Homo sapiens: one gene and its partners. The protein of the gene in region 1 purifies or fractionates together with the protein of each later gene. This does not show direct contact. Each region holds a gene or a part of one and is shown in the gene's direction. Other genes may lie near its edges.

Evidence for each region. The genes of interacting proteins can lie anywhere in the genome.
Region 2: the proteins of ADPRS (region 1) and CIB2 purify together in Homo sapiens (co-immunoprecipitation; one large-scale study listed by IntAct). This does not show direct contact.
Region 3: the proteins of ADPRS (region 1) and C10orf53 purify together in Homo sapiens (co-immunoprecipitation; one large-scale study listed by IntAct). This does not show direct contact.
Region 4: the proteins of ADPRS (region 1) and GMFB purify together in Homo sapiens (co-immunoprecipitation; one large-scale study listed by IntAct). This does not show direct contact.

The regions. Positions count from the first base shown.
Region 1 is NC_000001.11:36,087,413-36,091,691, forward strand, and holds the start of ADPRS (ADP-ribosylhydrolase ARH3), read left to right. Parts: upstream 1-1,479; 5' UTR 1,480-1,492; coding exon 1,493-1,703; intron 1,704-3,831; coding exon 3,832-3,928; intron 3,929-4,205; coding exon 4,206-4,279. Other genes in the region: TEKT2 (tektin-2), read left to right, coding at 27-170, 316-395, 561-774. UniProt on the Homo sapiens protein: ADP-ribosylhydrolase that preferentially hydrolyzes the scissile alpha-O-linkage attached to the anomeric C1'' position of ADP-ribose and acts on different substrates, such as proteins ADP-ribosylated on serine and threonine, free poly(ADP-ribose) and O-acetyl-ADP-D-ribose.
Region 2 is NC_000015.10:78,128,646-78,132,737, reverse strand, and holds the start of CIB2 (calcium and integrin-binding family member 2), read left to right. Parts: upstream 1-1,292; 5' UTR 1,293-1,522; coding exon 1,523-1,573; intron 1,574-4,092. UniProt on the Homo sapiens protein: Calcium- and integrin-binding protein that plays a role in intracellular calcium homeostasis. Acts as an auxiliary subunit of the sensory mechanoelectrical transduction (MET) channel in hair cells.
Region 3 is NC_000010.11:49,678,513-49,682,450, forward strand, and holds the start of C10orf53 (UPF0728 protein C10orf53), read left to right. Parts: upstream 1-1,138; 5' UTR 1,139-1,185; coding exon 1,186-1,282; intron 1,283-3,938.
Region 4 is NC_000014.9:54,486,181-54,490,399, reverse strand, and holds the start of GMFB (glia maturation factor beta), read left to right. Parts: upstream 1-1,419; 5' UTR 1,420-1,472; coding exon 1,473-1,475; intron 1,476-4,219. UniProt on the Homo sapiens protein: This protein causes differentiation of brain cells, stimulation of neural regeneration, and inhibition of proliferation of tumor cells.

The DNA.
Region 1 (4,279 bases):
GAAACCAGTCACTCTGTCCCCTGCAGACCTTGGAGGAGATCGCTGAGCTGCAGGAGGACATCCGGCACCTGGAGGAGGATCTGCGCACAAAGCTCCTGAGCCTGAAGCTGTCCCATACCCGGCTAGAGGCCAGAACCTACCGGCCCAACGTGGAACTCTGCCGGGACCAGGTGAGAGGGTGTCCCAGTGGCGCACGGGCCCCCTAGCCAAGGTTTTCTCATATTCCTGATGGAGCAAGGGCACTGCTGTCAAGGGGCAGCACTCAGGTAAAGGACAGTGTGGCTGACTTGGAACTCCCAACCCCTCTGCCTCCAGGCACAGTACGGCCTCACCGACGAGGTTCACCAGCTAGAGGCAACCATCGCTGCCCTGAAGCAGAAGCTGGCGCAAGCACAGTAGGTCTCGGGAGTGGGCGGAAGGAGCAGTGAGACGCTGCCCACAAATGGGGCCTCTTGCTGGCTGCTGGCTCCCTGGGGCTGTCTTCCTGACTGAAGGCTATGCACGCAGCCCAGGCCTCCCAGCCTCATGGGGGCTGGGGGGTTGTCAATGTCCTTCCCTAGGGACGCACTGGACGCCCTGTGCAAGCACCTGGCCCGGCTGCAGGCTGACATTGCCTGCAAGGCCAACTCCATGCTGCTGGACACCAAGTGCATGGACACACGGCGCAAGCTGACCGTGCCTGCTGAGAGGTTCGTGCCTGAGGTGGACACCTTCACACGTACCACAAATAGCACCCTGAGTCCACTCAAAAGCTGCCAGCTGGAGCTGGCCTAGCCTTGGAGGACTGCAGGAGGAGGGCAGGGTTGGGTGGGCAATGGAAGGAGGGAGGAGAGAAATGAATGGAATAAATGCAGAGGATCTCAGGCCGGCTGTTCTCTGCCCCACTGTATGTAGCCAGCAGGGAGAGGGTTCTTGAACACCCTCCTGTCTATGGAGGAGCAAAGATGGGGAACACTATTCCTCCGAACTCCATGTACCAAATCCAGTTCTTTCCCTCCCCTCAGGGCACCCCTCTCTGGGCTGGGTCAGCACTCCTGGGCTGCAGCAGCGCGGCCTCTACCTGGCTGTGTCCCAGTTGGCCCCTGGTCCGCCCTCCTGATGCTTAAGGGAGGCCCACAGGGGGCAAGGGCCCGGTGGGAGGGCTTGGGGGTGGTCCCGGCCTCGGTGGGGAGGGCCGGCTGGGGGTGCGGAGTTAGGGTTGCTCGCCTGCGGAAGGCAGTGTGGGCTGCAGTGATCCAATGGTCTGGCTCAGTGCCCATCCCCCGGAGACCCCATAGTGGCCTTCCCACCCAGTTAGCCCAGTGGTGAGGAGCGGAAAACCGAGACTCAAAGCACAGGCTGGCGGGAAGTGCGCGGCGCCGCGACTCCGGGCCGCTGGGCGGCGCTGTGGGCCTGGCGGCGGAGTGGAAACTCTAGGCCCCAGGGAGCGCTGCGGACGGAAGTAGGGAAACTGTGAGGGCGGCACCGGAAGTGGCGAGCAGTCTGCGCGCGGATGGCCGCAGCGGCGATGGCGGCAGCGGCAGGTGGAGGGGCTGGCGCGGCCCGCTCCCTCTCGCGCTTCCGAGGCTGCCTGGCTGGCGCGCTGCTCGGGGACTGCGTGGGCTCCTTCTACGAGGCCCACGACACCGTCGACCTGACGTCAGTCCTGCGTCATGTCCAGAGTCTGGAGCCGGACCCCGGCACGCCCGGGAGTGAGCGGACAGGTGGGCGGGGCCGGGCGCAAGTCAGAGGCCGTGCGGGAGGGAGGCCGAAGGGGCGCGGAGCCTCCGGGGGCGACGGGTCGGGGGTGCGCGGGGATGAGGCTGCCGAGGGCACCGGGGCCAGAGCCGGATGACCCGCAGACAGCTTGAGCTCAGCGAGTGCCAGTGCGATCTCCGGCCTTATAGACGTCTCGCCCCGAACATCCCGTGCTCGGGGCGTGGCAGCACCGGGGCCTCAACCGTGCAGGGTGTGGATAAACCCATCGTAAGTTGAAAATACCTGAAGTGGAAAGTGCGCTTTCAGCTTAGACGACCGTTTTATCTGGACGCAGCCCCATCGGACGTCGAGGAGCCTATGAATGCGTATCAGCGTTATCAGAAAGCCGAAAAAAACTTAAGTTGAACCATCCTAAGTCGGGGACTGTCTGTCCACCCTTGCCGACTTGACCTCTTTTTCCCGGTTCTCTAGAGTCAGTATACCACCAGCCCGTTCTCCACCCCGCAAGGCGTGCTTTGGAAGCCTGACTCTAATCGCGTCCTCCCCTGCCTAAAACCCTGCTGTGATTTCCCATTACCCTTAGTACAGAGCCACATTCCTTAACGTGTCCGACGTGGTCCGGCCCTCCCACACGTCTGCAGTTTCGTTTTCCGCCAGCCTTGGCCTTGCTTTCTGCTCTTCGGTTCCTCACACCATGATTCCTCTAGGCCAGGCGTTTGCATGCGCTGTCTCGCCTGTAAAACTAACTTCCCTTCCCTTGTGGGCTCAGATCCCGGCTCAGGTAGCAGGTGTGAGGTCAAGCAGAGGAGGTGAATCTTCTTGGAGAGCAGGTAGCATAGTAAGAAGAAAGGGCCATGGTCAGAACCCTGGAGAACACCGGTAATTAAGAGGGAGGGAGGGAGGGAAGGGGATTAGGGAAGGAAACAGTTTGATAGGAGGAGAAGCAGGAGTGGCTATCAACGAAACCTAGGAAAAGAATTTCAAAATGAAGACACTGATCACTGGTGGTGTGCTCCAGAGAAGTGAAGTAGGAGGAGATCTGGATCCAGAAACTATCATTTTCAATCTGGGTATGGTGGCGCACACCTATAATCCCAGCTACTCCAGAGACTGAGGTGGAAGGATCATCGCTTAAGTCCAGGAGTTCGAGACTAGCCTGGGCAACATGGCAAGATCCTGTCTATAAAAAAGAAAAACAAAACAAAAACAAAAAGACTGGAGCTGCAAGGATGGCAGCCACAAGGGGATGGAAGTTTTCTTTCAGAAATCAGAAGATCAAACCATGATGTAGGCTCATAATAAATAAATACATAAAATAGAAAGCAGCAGGACTGACTTGGAATAAAGAATTGCTGAAAATCCCATTGCTGAGATCCTAAGGCTTCCCAGGCCCACGAAAGTGAATGGGAGTGAGAAACTGATTTGAGGTCATTTTAGATGTGGTAACTCTGAAACATGAGTAGAGGCTGGGTGCCGTAGCCACAACTGTAATCCCAGCGCTTTGGGAGAGTCCACTTGAGCCCAAGAGTTTGAGACCAGCCTGGCAACAGGATGAAACTCCATCTCTACAAAAAAAAAAAAAAAAAAAAAAAAAAGCCAGGCGCAGTGGTGTGCACCTGTAGTCCCAGCTACTCGGGAGGCTGGGGCAAGAGGCTCCTTGAGCCTGGGAGGTCGAGATGGAGTGAGCCATGGTCGTACCACTGCACTGCAGCTTAGGCAACAGAGTGAGACCCTGTACCAAAAAAATAATAATATAAACTAAAATAAAAGGTGAGCAGGGCCAGGCACAGTGGCTCAGGCCTATAATCCCAGCTCTTTGGGAGGCCAAGGCAGGAGGATTGCTTGAGCCCAGGAATTCAAGACCAGTCTGGACAACAGAGTGAGACCCTGTCTCTACAAAAAAATAAAAGTAGCTGGGTGTGATGATGCATGCCTATAGTCCCAGCTACTTGAGAGGCTGAGGCAGAAGGATAGCTTGAGCCCAGGAGTTCAAGACTGCAGTGAGCCATGATTGCACCAGTGCACTCCAGTCTGGGCAACAGAGCGAGACTCTGTCTCCAAAAAAAGCAAAAAACAACAACAAAAAAAACAAAGGTGAGCAGGAGGCTCTCATCCTCCCTCCTCTCCCCACAGAAGCCTTGTACTACACAGATGACACAGCCATGGCCAGGGCCCTGGTGCAGTCCCTGCTAGCCAAGGAGGCCTTTGACGAGGTGGACATGGCTCACAGGTGAGGGGGATGGTCCTGGGCTGAGGCAAACCAGGTGGGAAAGTTATTGCACCCCTTGACCAGAGGAATGACATTTGTGCATGTCCACGCCCCCAACCCTCCACAGAAGCCTGTGTCAGGCTGGCACAGCTTCCCAAGCTAAAACAGCAGCACTGCTGGTGCAGGCTCCTTAGGCCCCCGAGGCTTTCTCTTTTTCCAAACTAGCCTCGATTTCTTCTCTCCCAACCCTTAGAGGCATCTTGTAAATCTGAATTCTGTCTCCCCTTCTGTTCCCTAGATTTGCTCAGGAGTACAAGAAAGACCCTGACAGGGGCTATGGTGCTGGAGTAGTCACTGTCTTCAAGAAGCTCC
Region 2 (4,092 bases), on another chromosome or scaffold:
TCTAAAAAACAGGAGATGAGGCCGGGCATGATGGCTCACATCCTATAATCCCAGCACTTTGGGTGAGAAGCCAAAGTGGGTGGATTGCTCGAGCCTGGGAATTCAAAACCAGCCTGGGCAACACGGCAAAACCCCATCTCTACAAAAAAAATACAATAATTGGCCGGGCGTGGTGACTCAGGCCTCTAATCCTAGCACTTCGGGAGGCTGAGGCAGGTGGATCACCTGAGGTCAAGATTTCGAGACCAGCCCAGCCAACATGGTGAAACCTCTCTCTACTAAAAATACAAAAAAAAATTAGCTGGGTGTGGTGGCATGCCCCTGTAGTCCCACCTACTAGGGGAGGCTGAGGCAGAAGAATCGCTTGAACCCAGGAGGCGGAGGTTGTAGCGAGCCAAGATCGCGCTACTGCACTCCAGCCTGGGCGACAGAGGGAGACTCCATCTCAAAAAAAAAAAAAAGTATTTAGATTTTGCCAGTTCTCAGGGTCTTCATTTCCTTATGAGGGCTTCCACGTCATGTAAAACTTGTATTAAATCTGTTTTTCTCCCCTTAATCTGTCTTATGCCAAATTAATTCTCAAGCCCAGCCAAAGACCCTAGGAGGGCAGAGGTAAAGTCCTGCTTCCCTTACAATGGCATCTGCTTAAAAGCTCCAAAAAATGTCTTGGCCTTTGTCACACTTCTGTGGACACAGTCAAGTCCTTTAAATCCTCTCAAGTCTCACGTTTGTAACCAAGCCAAGTAAATCCTGTCCTGCTCCCTAAGGAACACAGAAGGTCTGAGATGCCCTGCCTAGGCCGCGCCCAAAGGCCAGATGGGCTTCCCGAGGCCTGGCCGGGAGGGCCTCAGATGTCAGCTTGACTGACCCCCTCCTTCTCCCCAGAGGGACAGGGCCCGGGTAAGGGCTTGACCAAGGTCGCGACGCGAGACGGTGGCGGAGCCCGGCCCCAGCTAGATCCACGCACTCACAGTCCTCGCTGCCGCCCCCGCCCCAGGTCAAGGGGCGCCACTCGCCCCACTGCCCGCCTCGAGAGGGTTTTTTCCCAGGCCCCGCACCCTCACGCCGTGCGACCTGGACTCCCACGGCGGGACCCGGGCTCACACCTCTTCCTGCTGCGGGGCGGAGTCGCCGCCGCTCCGGGTCTTTGTCCCCGCCTCCGAGACCCCCGCGCGCCCCCAGCACTTCCGGCCGCGGGAGCCAAGGGTTCGTGCCGGGCAGCGTCTCCCGGGGCCAGGTCGCCTCCTGCCGGGACCCGGGCGCGCTGCAGCCGCGGAGCCGGGTGCCCCGCCCTCTTCCCGCCGGCGGCGGAGTCGCTGCCGCTCCGGGTTCCCGTCCCCGCCTCCGAGACCCCCGCGCGCCTCCTCCAGGCGAGCTGCGGGGCGGGAAGGGTCCGGCCACCGTGGGCCGCTGCCAGCCGCGGGGCTGCCGAGGGCCGCGGGCACGGGGCGCTGGCTCCGGGTCTGGCGGCCGCTGATGGGAGTCGGAGCCCGGGCGGGCGAGCGGCGGCGCGGCGGCCACCATGGGGAACAAGCAGACCATCTTCACCGAAGAGCAGCTAGACAACTACCAGGTGAGCTCGGCGCGCCCGGCCCCCAACACAGGCCCCGCCGCCCCGCCGCCCCTCCCTTTTCTCGGTCGCTGGCCGAGGCCTCCCGAGAGCCAGCTCTCCCAGGTTCAAACCCTGCCTCTGCCTTCAGCTCGACGCGTGACCTTGGGCCGGTGACTTCCCCTCGCCGTGCCTCAGTTTCCCCACCGGTGGAATAAGAGCTCTTTCCAGTTGGAAGAACCTCTCAGGCGCGCCTCTCTCCAGCTACTCTCGCCCTAGGCAGGACCCGAACCCCTCTCCAGCCACCCATTCCAGCGCCCATCTGGCCCGGAGAGGGAGTCAGTAAACTAGGCTGGACGGAGGACCGCCCTCCCCGCTCCCTGCCCCCCAGCCCCAGGAAGGAGCCCAGGAGAGCGAGTCTCTGTAAAGCAGAAATGAGAGCTGGCGTCCTGTCTGGTCTAGGAGTGGGGTGCATCAGTCCCCACATGCAGTCTTCCCTTGGGACTGTCTTGTTTATCGGCTGGGGTTCGCTCCTTCTGACCCCAGCATGGAGATAACTGGAGCAAGAACGCAAGCCCGGTAGCAGCCTTCCAGGGCCACCTCTCCCAGCTCCCTTAGGCCCTCAGTAGCCACCTCCTTAGACCTTTCTAGGTTTTCCTGCCTCCAGAGCCAGCTTTCCAGATCTGGAATCCCAATACCGTCCCACCCAGGTAAAAACTTCGCTGTGGTTGCAGGATGAAGCCCAACCCCTTGGCTTACCCGGAGCCCTGGCCAATTGCTCAGCTTATCTCTGCAGCCTCAGTCTCCCCAGGTCCCTTCCCTGCCCTCTGCATGGCAGCCGCCTTAAAACCATTTGCAGTTGCTCCAGCTCACCAGGCTCATTCCTCCCTCCCTCTCTCCCTCTGCCCATGCCATTTCCTGGGCCTGGATGCCTTTCCCCCCTCCAGAGGATCTCTTTCACCCTTCAAGTCCCACATCTGATGCCTCTCCCCTGACTCCCCAGGCGGAGGGGGCAGGATTGTGTTGTGGCCTGTGTAACTGGGCAGGAGGAACACCAACAGGGTCTCCATAGGCACTTGTTGCCTTCATCAGTGCTTACTTTGGCTGTGAAGGAAAGCAGGTGTGAAGTGTGGGTCCTCTGATGTGGGTGAAGGTAAAACAAAGGCCCCTTCTCCTCCTAGAAGCCCTAGTTGTCAGTAATGGATTTCTCAGCTCCCCAGGTGAGGCCCTGGGAAGGAAGAGGGGAGACGCATTTATGGAGCACCTGCTGTGTACCAGGCACAGTAATTGATGCCCTCTACGCATCAACTCACTTGATCATCACAGTGAGGTGGATTATTAGCCCATTTTACAGACGTGTAAACAGAGGCTGAGGAGCCATTCAGGGCTCACACAGGATTTCGAATCTTGACTCCTAGGCTCACTTCTTTAGTTGGGAGTGGGCTGGGCTGGGCCATGTGTGCTTTTTGTTCCCAAGGCACTCAGTCTCAGACACTCAGAGACAGACTCTCACCTCCAGTGTGTGGCCCTTGTGATAGAGGCAGGTGGTGGAGTGTGTTCTAGGGAAGGGCACTAGTGGGCAGTGGGAGGCCAGCAGGGAAGGGGGACAAAGTCCAGAAACGATACAGCACTTGAGCAGGCCTTGGGAAGATAGGTCGGGTTTTGCCCAGTGGGGCCCAGAGGAGGCATTCCAGGTGGAGGGGACAGCGTGGATAAAGGCTTGGGAGTGGGCAGGGGCAAGCAGGCAAGCCATGCTCAGAAGTGAGGAGTAGCTTCATGGGGGTGGGGAGCCCAGGTTCCCACTCCAACCAGCCTGGCATTGGGTTACTCATCGGAGCCAGTCCCAGTGTTATGTTCTGATTCTTTGCCAGAGCCTAGCTAGACCCTGCCAGGCGGGGTGGGAGAAATGAGAGCTGTGAAACCTGAGAGCCCCACATCTCCTACCCTCTGGCTCTCCAGCCAGCCATTGCCAGCCCGGGCTGAGTGGGGGTGAGCCTGAGTTACAGCACCCTCTCCCCTAAGTGACACCTAGGGTTTCTTGGGACCTCCCAGCCTGGTAGTCTAACCTTTCCTGGGCAGGGTGCACCCTCTTGGTTCCCGGTGCCGGTGATTCCCAACATTTAAGCTTCTGTCCAGAACACTCCTCTGCATTGTACGGCCATCCCCCAGACCCCTCAAACTCCAAAACAGGGGTCACAGCCTCTCCAACACCCACTGCTGCTCCTCCAGCCATTTCAACTCTCTGCTCTCCCTCAGCCCATGTTTTCAGTTAAGAACAAGGCCTGTGACTCAGCCTCTTTTGTGGGTCACCTGGAGGTCCCCTCCTCCATCACGACAGCCAGGGCCCTGGGCTAGGCCTGCTCAGTCTCCTGCAAACTGGAGGTCTGACTGCTCCCTCCTGCGCCCCTCCTGCCCATCCCCCTCCAGCCACCCGCCCTCTTAGTTCTCTCACTCTTCCTTCATCTCTTTCTTTCTCTTCCTTTTTTTTTTTTTTGAGACGGAGTCTCGCTCGCCCTGTCACCCAGGCTGGAGTGCAGTGGTGT
Region 3 (3,938 bases), on another chromosome or scaffold:
TGGTGAATTCAGTGGTTCTTGTCCGATGGTGCGAAACTCAAGTGCTGGGGGAAATTATGTATGACCCATAATAATGTCAAAATTCTGCTGATATCATTCCTCTATTTAACAATCGTGTATAAACTAATTCTCATCAAAGAAATATGTATCATAGAACATACTGTACACGTGGAGAGAATTAAAATACACAGTAGCATACGTTGGGAGAATTAGTGGGAAAGGGTTTTTAAAATCCTTTACTGTTCAAAAGGAGGGTAAAAATATCAACTACAATTGAATATTTAGAAAGTAAAGAAATGCTGTAATCGCAAGGGTATTGCGATTGTTAGGTTGGGCTAATTTCTGTAATAAACAACCCCCAAAATCTCAGTGGTTATGGAATAAATGTTTCCTTCTGGCTTCGGTCACCAACTAATGCAGATGGGTGGGGCTCTATTCGGCGCAGCTACTCAGTGGTCCAGGTTCCTCCCACGTTTTGGGTCTGTCTCCCCGGGAGCCTCGGGTCCTCCCTGGGATCCCGTATCTGGCTACCGATAAGAAGAGGGAGACAGCAGGTGTGGAGGAGACTTTTTAGGAGCCATGCCTAGAAGTGGTGGATGTCTTTTATGTCCAAATTCCAATGAGCAGAACTGAGCAAATAAAAGGGAATTGGACGAATTCAGTTTTGGCTCCACCAAATAGCCTAACTGGTGACAGAAGGGGCCGGGGGAAGAAGGTGGGGGAAGAAGAATGATGAACGAATACTCCCAATCAATCAAAAAGAGGCAAGAAAATAGAAGAAATGCAAGGGTTTCCAATCCATACTACACCCCTGTCACTCTTGGGACCGCAACTTGCCCTCCCAGAGCCTCGGTTTTGTAAACAAAAAACATAAAATACTTCCTAGGGATGGTAAACTGATTCAACCAGATAACGCAGGGAAAATGCTTCGCACGCCGCCTGACACGAACTTACTGTGCCTGGCTGCTGCTGTTATTTATCACTAACACTTGCCACACCAGCTCAAACGCGCGTATTTGCGGACCAGGCGCTGAGGGTCACGTGAGCAGCTTGGGGCCGGGAGGATCCCCTAGCGCCACCCCGGCCCCGCCCGGCGCGTAGCGACGCCCACGCGCCCGGGCCGGAAGAGAGGTTGCTTAGCAGCGTGTGTTTCTCCCTTGCCTCTGCGGCGGCGGAGGCCTGGCGATGCCCAAGAACGCAGTGGTCATCCTGCGCTATGGGCCCTACAGCGCGGCAGGCCTACCGGTGGAGCACCACACCTTCCGCCTGCAGGGCCTGCAAGGTGGGCCTCCTCGCCGCGTGCGCCCCTGAGGGCCCCAGCCTCTGAGCATCCGTGCAGGTGGTGCCCTGTGCCTAGGCCTTCCTCAGACCCCCACGAAGCGCCACCTCTCCAGGAAGTCTTCCCCAGGATGATGTTGCAACCTATGGCTTCCAGGGCTGGGCTAAAAGAGTGGGAAGGCTCTTCTATCCAAGAGTGAGCTGTGGGCCCACCCAGTGCCCAGCAAATTACAGAAATTACCTCCATAGAAAAAATTACATAACCCTGCTTTAAGAATTGGGAAACTGAGGATCAAGAATATTAAGTGACTTTCACAACTCAAATGGCTGGGAAGTAGCGTTGCTGGTATTCCATCTCTTAATCGTTCATGCAGCAGACTTTTATTAAGCACGCAGTGTGTGTTGGACACCCTTCCAGGGACTGAGGACACACTGTTAAACAGTGATGAATGTCCTTGAAGTAATCTCCTTGTTAACTGCTAAATGACAGCTGTGCCTAAGCTCTGACTGAGGCTAGGTGGTGCCATGGGAGCTAACCACAGTGGGACCTGTGACTAGCCATAATGGGAGGGGAGAGGGAGAGGTCTGGAAAGGCTCATTTAAGTGGAGCCTTAAATGAGCCCACATTTAAGTAGACCTTTAAAGAATGAGTAGAAACTAACCAGGTAAAGAGAGGAATGCCTTCCAGGCAGAGGGACTAATAATATAGGCAATGGCTGGAGGCATTCAATAAATGATGTATTAATATTTGTTAAACTGATGGGGGATGAGGCTGGAGAGGTAATCAGGCCAGATCCTGCAGTGCCGCAGATAAGTTTTAGGCAGGGGATGAAGCTGTTGCTGCTCTGAGGAGAACAGATTAGAGGGGGCAAGAGTGGAAACAAGGAAGACAAGTCTGTTGGGGTGGTCCAGGGCTGAGATGAGAGTAGCTTGGACCATAAAGGAGACCATGGATCAAAGTGAAAGCAATGGTACTTCCTGAGAGGATGGAGGTGGGAGGTAAGGGTAAAAAGAATGTTATCCGGATCTAATCAGTGTCTGACTTGAAACAGTGCTGATGGATGGATGTACTGTCCACTAAAATCAAAGACACCAAAGATGGACCAAAATTTGGAGGAATATGTGGAATCGTTCCAAAGGAACAGTCTATTTTGGTCATACAGATAGTCCCCAACTTAGACTTCTTGACTTTAGCATGGGTTTATTGGGAGGTAACCCTATCCTAAGTTGAGGCACATCTGAACCTACAATGGTTCCACTTAACGATTTTTCCACTTTATGATGGGCTTATCCAGGTATTAAGCCCACTTTCCACTTACAGTGGGCTCATTGGGACCTAGCCCCATCATAAGTCAAGGAGCATCTGAATTAAGCTTCATGTGCTTTCGGCTACCTAGACAGAGGTGCTGAATCAGCTCTGTTGTTCTGGAGTTCAGAGAAAAAGTCTGAAATGGAGATAGAAAGATGTGAGTCATTGACTTGGAGAGAACATATAGAATGAGATGAGAGCCCAGGAATGACCATTGATGAACTCCCATCCTATGACCCAAACTAAGAGTCTTCCAGGCAAAATACCCTGAAGCCTAAGGACACAAAAATTAGTTTTAGCTGAGCAATCAGGGAAAGCCTCCTGGAAGAGATGGCATTTGAGTTTGAGTTTGAAGGATGGGTAGGATTTCAATCAGCAGAGGAAGTTACTTTCTGTGAGAGAACAGTTGATAGAGAAATTTCTGTTGCAAATACCTCCATGTTTGTATTTGTCTATTGGGATTGCCAAAACAAAATACCATAGACTATGGGACTTAAACAATAGAAATATATTTTTTCAGTCTAAAGGCTAAAAGTCCCTGATCAAGGTCTGGCAAGGTCAGCTTCTGGTGAGGGCTCTGGGCGCTCTTCCTGGCTTGCTGACAGCCACCTTCTCTTTTGTCCTCACCTGGTGGGATTATATGGGGAGAGCGGGGAGCAAGCTCACTGGTGTCTCTTCTTATAAGAAGAAAGACACTAATCCTATCAGATTGGGTCCTCATCCTTATAACCTCATTTAACCTTAATTACCTCTTTAAGCACCTGTAGTCACATTGGGAGTTAGGGCTTCCATATATGAAGTTGGGGGAAGGGGGGCAACAATTCAATTCCTAGCAGTGTTGCATGGTGATGTTTAAAATGTTTTGTAGTTTTGGCTAAGAAGACAGCCTAAATAAGTGACTTTTCTCTTCCTCCCCCTCTGATGAGCCACACCTACCCACCCTCACCTCATAATCTACCTTTAGTTTATGTTCACTGTCTCTAAAAATAACGTGGGTAAAACATATATTTAAAATGTTGCCATTTTAACCATGTTAAGCATACAATTCAGTGACATTAATTATCTTTACAATGTTGTGGAACCATCACTATTCTCTCTTTTTAAAATTTTTCAACACCCCAGACAGAAACTGTATTCCTTAAGCAACAACACCCTATCCCTCTGTGTCCAGAATTTATTCCTTCTGGTGGGTTCATGGTCTCGCTGACTTCAAGAATGAAGCCAGGGACCTCGCGGTGAGTGTTACAGCTCTTAAAGGTGGTGCATCCAGAGTTGTTTGTTCCTCCTGGTGGGCTCGTGGTCTCGCTGACTTCAGGAATGAAGTTGCAGACCCTTGCAGTGAGTGTTACAG
Region 4 (4,219 bases), on another chromosome or scaffold:
AAGGTTGAGAGTGTCCCACCTTGGAGAGGAATGTTGAACAATTGATTCACAGCCTTGTTGCCGCAAACCAGACCATTGGGTGGCCCATTACTCAAGACAACCCTGGCAAACAGATAATGCTGACCTGCATAAACTACCCCTAATTTGTTGTGCTCTTTTAGGAGAGTCAGTCAGGGAATTCTCTCATTCTCTTATGCTGCCTCCCTTATGCTCCGGCATAAGCTCCAATGAAGCCTTGCCTGGAGAAACTCTTTTGGCCTCAGGTCAATTTGCATTGAGAGACCAAGAACCCATGGTCATAACAAAATGAGGTACTGCCCCAGGCAGTTTGTTTTATTGAAGGTACCTGTTGAATCCTAGAGCCTAAACTTTACTTCTCCCAAACCACTTTCTTCATGCATTCAAAACTGGACTTGTTCCACTAAGTCTGCATCTGGTACAGAGACTTCTTGATGTTTACTTAGGCAGTGGCCCATAAGAGTGCTCATTGAAACACCAATCATCATTCATTCATACTTCAATAAATAACTTGTATGGAGAAAAGAGGCTGGGCATGGTGGCTGACGCCTGTGATCCCAGCGCTTTGGGAGGCACACAGGAAGACTGTTTGTGGCCAGGAGTTCAAGACCAGCTTGGGCAATATAGGGAGACTCTATCTCTACAAAAAAATTTAAAAATTAGCCGGGTGTGTGGTGGCACACGGCTGTAGTCCCAGCTACTGGGGAGGCTGAGGTAGGAGGATTGCTTGAACCCAGGAGTTTGAGGCTGCTGTGAGCTATAATCGTGCTACTGCATTCCAGCCTGGGCAACAGAGCGAGACGAGAGAGAGAGAGAAGAAATGTGTGTGTGTGAGAGAAGAGAGAAGAAATGTGTGTGTGTGTGAGAGAGAAGAAATGTGTGTAAGAGAGAGAGGGAAAGGGGGAGGGAGAGAGAGAGAAAGAGAGAGAGAGAGAGAGAGAGATTGATTAACCAAGTCCTGGAAGGCAGCCGTGGTCAGAAGTGGGGTTCTGGAGAGGGTGGGAGGAAAGGAGGTGTGCCTAGATTTGAGGGAGATCAAATTTGGAAGGTAGGCTGCGGTCAGTACACACATTTACCATTGAAAACATTGATGTCACCATTAACATGCTCTCAGAGCTTGAAGACTGCGAAAAAGGTCCGGAGAACTGGCATGACTTTTAAGTATGCACCTTGGGTTTGTTTCTCACTTGCAGCCAGGCAGAGCGTCCTCCTCTAGAGGGAGCAGGGAAAAGAAAAAAAAAAAAAAAAAAAAAAAAAAAAAAATCAGGCGATCGCATTCTGTCTAATTTTGAGCCGCGCCTTTTGCCGTCCGCCATCACGTGCCGGCCCGCTGAGGCCGCGTTGATAGGTGGGGGCGACTGGGCCAGGCGCCGGGGCAGGAAGGGAGGCGGCCGCCGTGCCATTCTTAAAGGCGCCCGAGTGTAGGCGACAGGCCGCTGACGGCCGGAAGGAAAATGGTGAGTTGCCGCTGGGAGGGCGGGGGCCGGAGGGCTGGGCGAGCCGGCCAGCCGGGTTTTCCCGGTTTCCGGAGCCGGCGGCGGCGGGCAGCGCCCAGGAGGGCTCGGCGGCCGCTTCCGCTCCCAGCAGCTGGCCAGTGCCCATAGCTAGAGTACTTGGCCTCTGCCGCCGCCACCACGCCTCAGGGCAGCATCTTCCAGCTGGGCCCGGGGTGGACCCGCCCAGCGGGCCATGGGACTAGGGTGCGGCCACGAGCAGGGGGGTTGGGGAGGCCCCACGCCAGGTCCTTCTGGTTGGAGGGCTTCAGCTTCTGAGCTGTAGGTTGGAGGGAAAGGGGTCTGCCCCATCGGAGGGCTCCCTCAATTCCTGCTTTCCCTGCCAGGGCCGTGGCCAGGTTCCAGGGGTTGGTGGGCCCCGAGCATCTTCCACCTGGCGGCGTTTTGGGGGAGGACTCGAATTCCGATTGAATTCTCTCGGCCTCACCTTAGCTTCTTTCTCTCTGCTCCTTTCCCTAGCTTCCTACAGAGGATTTCTCCTTATCTTTGCTTTCCTATGGCAGTTGGAAACCTTTCGACCCAAAGCTTTGGCACTGGGCCTTAAAGTAATTGTCAATAACTTTAGTTTTGTTGGTTCTGGGGGCTGTGGCTTCTGTTCTTACATGGGATGGACCCCAAGCATAAAAATAAAGTGGAAAATTAAATAAATCGCCATCAAGGATCTTTTGGATCCATCCCATTAGGTTTTAAAATATGGGTAAATTTCATTAGAAACAACAAAACACTGCTCTCTGTGACCATCCACTCAATTCTCAGCCCACTTTCATCGAATAGATCTTGTCATGGTCACTGAATCGAATGGATTCTTTTCAGTTTTCGTCTTCTCTGACCTTTTAGCTGCATTCCAGAGTGTTATACTCTCTTGTTTTTGAAGCATTCTCTTCCTTCATTCTTCCCCTTTGGCTTCTGGGATACAGAGCTCCTCCTACTTCTCCTATTGGTCCATCTGTTTCCCTTTCAGACTATTCTCCTTTCCCTGGACAATGCTCGAAGGAGTCCCAGGTTTCATCCTAATCCTTCATTTTCCATTCTGTATTCTTCATCCTAAACTATGGCTTCAGTTACCATCTATATTCAGATGACTTGTGAATTTACAGCTCAGAAGACCTTGCTTCTGAGATCCAATCCAGATCTGTATGTACTTTTTTTTCTTTGAGTCGGAGTTTCACTCTTGTGGCCCAGGCTGGAGTGCAATGGCGGGATCTCGGCCCATTGCAACCTCCGCCTCCCAGGTTCAAGCAGTTCTCCTGCCTCAGCCTCCCAAGTAGCTGGGATTACAGGCATGTGCCACCACGCCCGGCTAATTTTGTTTTTTTGTTTGTTTGTTTTGAGATGGAGTCTCGCTCTGTCGCGTTGGTTGGAGTGCAGTGGCGCGATCTCCGCTCACTGCAAGCTCCGCCTCCCTGGTTCACGCCGTTCGTTCTCCCGCCTCAGCCTCCCGAGTAGCTGGGACTACAGGCTCCCGCCACCACACCCGGCTAATTTTGTTTTTGTATTTTTAGTACAGACGGGGTTTCACCGTGTTAGCCAGGATGGTCTCGATCTCCTGACCTCGTGATCCACCTGCCTCGGCCTCCCAAAGTGCTGGGATTACAGGCGTGAGCCACCGCGCCCGGCCCTAATTTTGTATTTTTAGTAGAGACGGGGTTTCACCATGTTAGCCAGGATGGTCTCGATCTCCTGACCTCAAGTGATCCACCTGCCCCGGCCTCCCAAAGTGTTGAGATTACAGACGTGAGCTACCGCGCCTGACCCCAGATCTATATATTAATATTTCAATATTTAGTTACCATTCCCCTGGGAAGCTTTTCCTCCACTTGGTCTCCTCAAAGCCACCTCAGTTTGTCCAAAGTAGAACTCATGCCCTTTCTCCTCAAACCTAGTCTTCTGTCTGTTATACAAGACAATCTGTTATACCAGCCAGAAGCCTAGTATATCTGGTAACCCTTTTTTTTGCTTACTCACACCCCACCCCCACCCCCAATATCCAATCTGTCACCACCTCCTTTGTAGTGGTTAAGAGAGTGAGTTAAGATAGGCTGCCTGGGTTGAATCCTGGCTCCACTAGCTATGTAATTGGGGAAAGATACTTAACCTCTCTAAACCTTAGTTTCTTGCAAAATGGGAGTAATAATAGTATCTGTTTCGTGAGATTGTTTTGAACATAAAAGGAAATCTATGTAAAGGATATAACAGTGTTTCTCTCATAGGGTCTGATACATGTTAACTATTATTAGGACTAAATGGGAATTTTTTGCTATTGAGTTGTTTGAGATCCTTGTATATTCTGATTATTAATCCTTTGTTGAGTGGAGAATTTGCAGATATTTTCTCCCATTCTGTAGGTTGTCTCTTCACTCGTTGTTTTCTTTCCTCTCAGAAGCTTTTTAGCTTGATATGATCTCATTTGTCTATTTTGCTTTAGTTGTCTGTGCTTTTGAGGTCTTACTCAAAAAAATCTTTGCCCAGACCAATGTCCTGAAGCAATTGCCCAGTGTTTTCTTCTAGTGGTTGTATAGTTTCAGATCTTACATTTAAGTCTTTAATCCATTTTGATTTGATTTTTGTATATGCTGAGAGTTGGGGTCTGTTTGTTTTTGTTTTTTTGTTTTTGTTTTTGAGATGGAGTCTCGCTCTGTCGCCAGGCTAGAGTGCAGTGGTGCAATCTCGGCTCACTGCAACCTCAG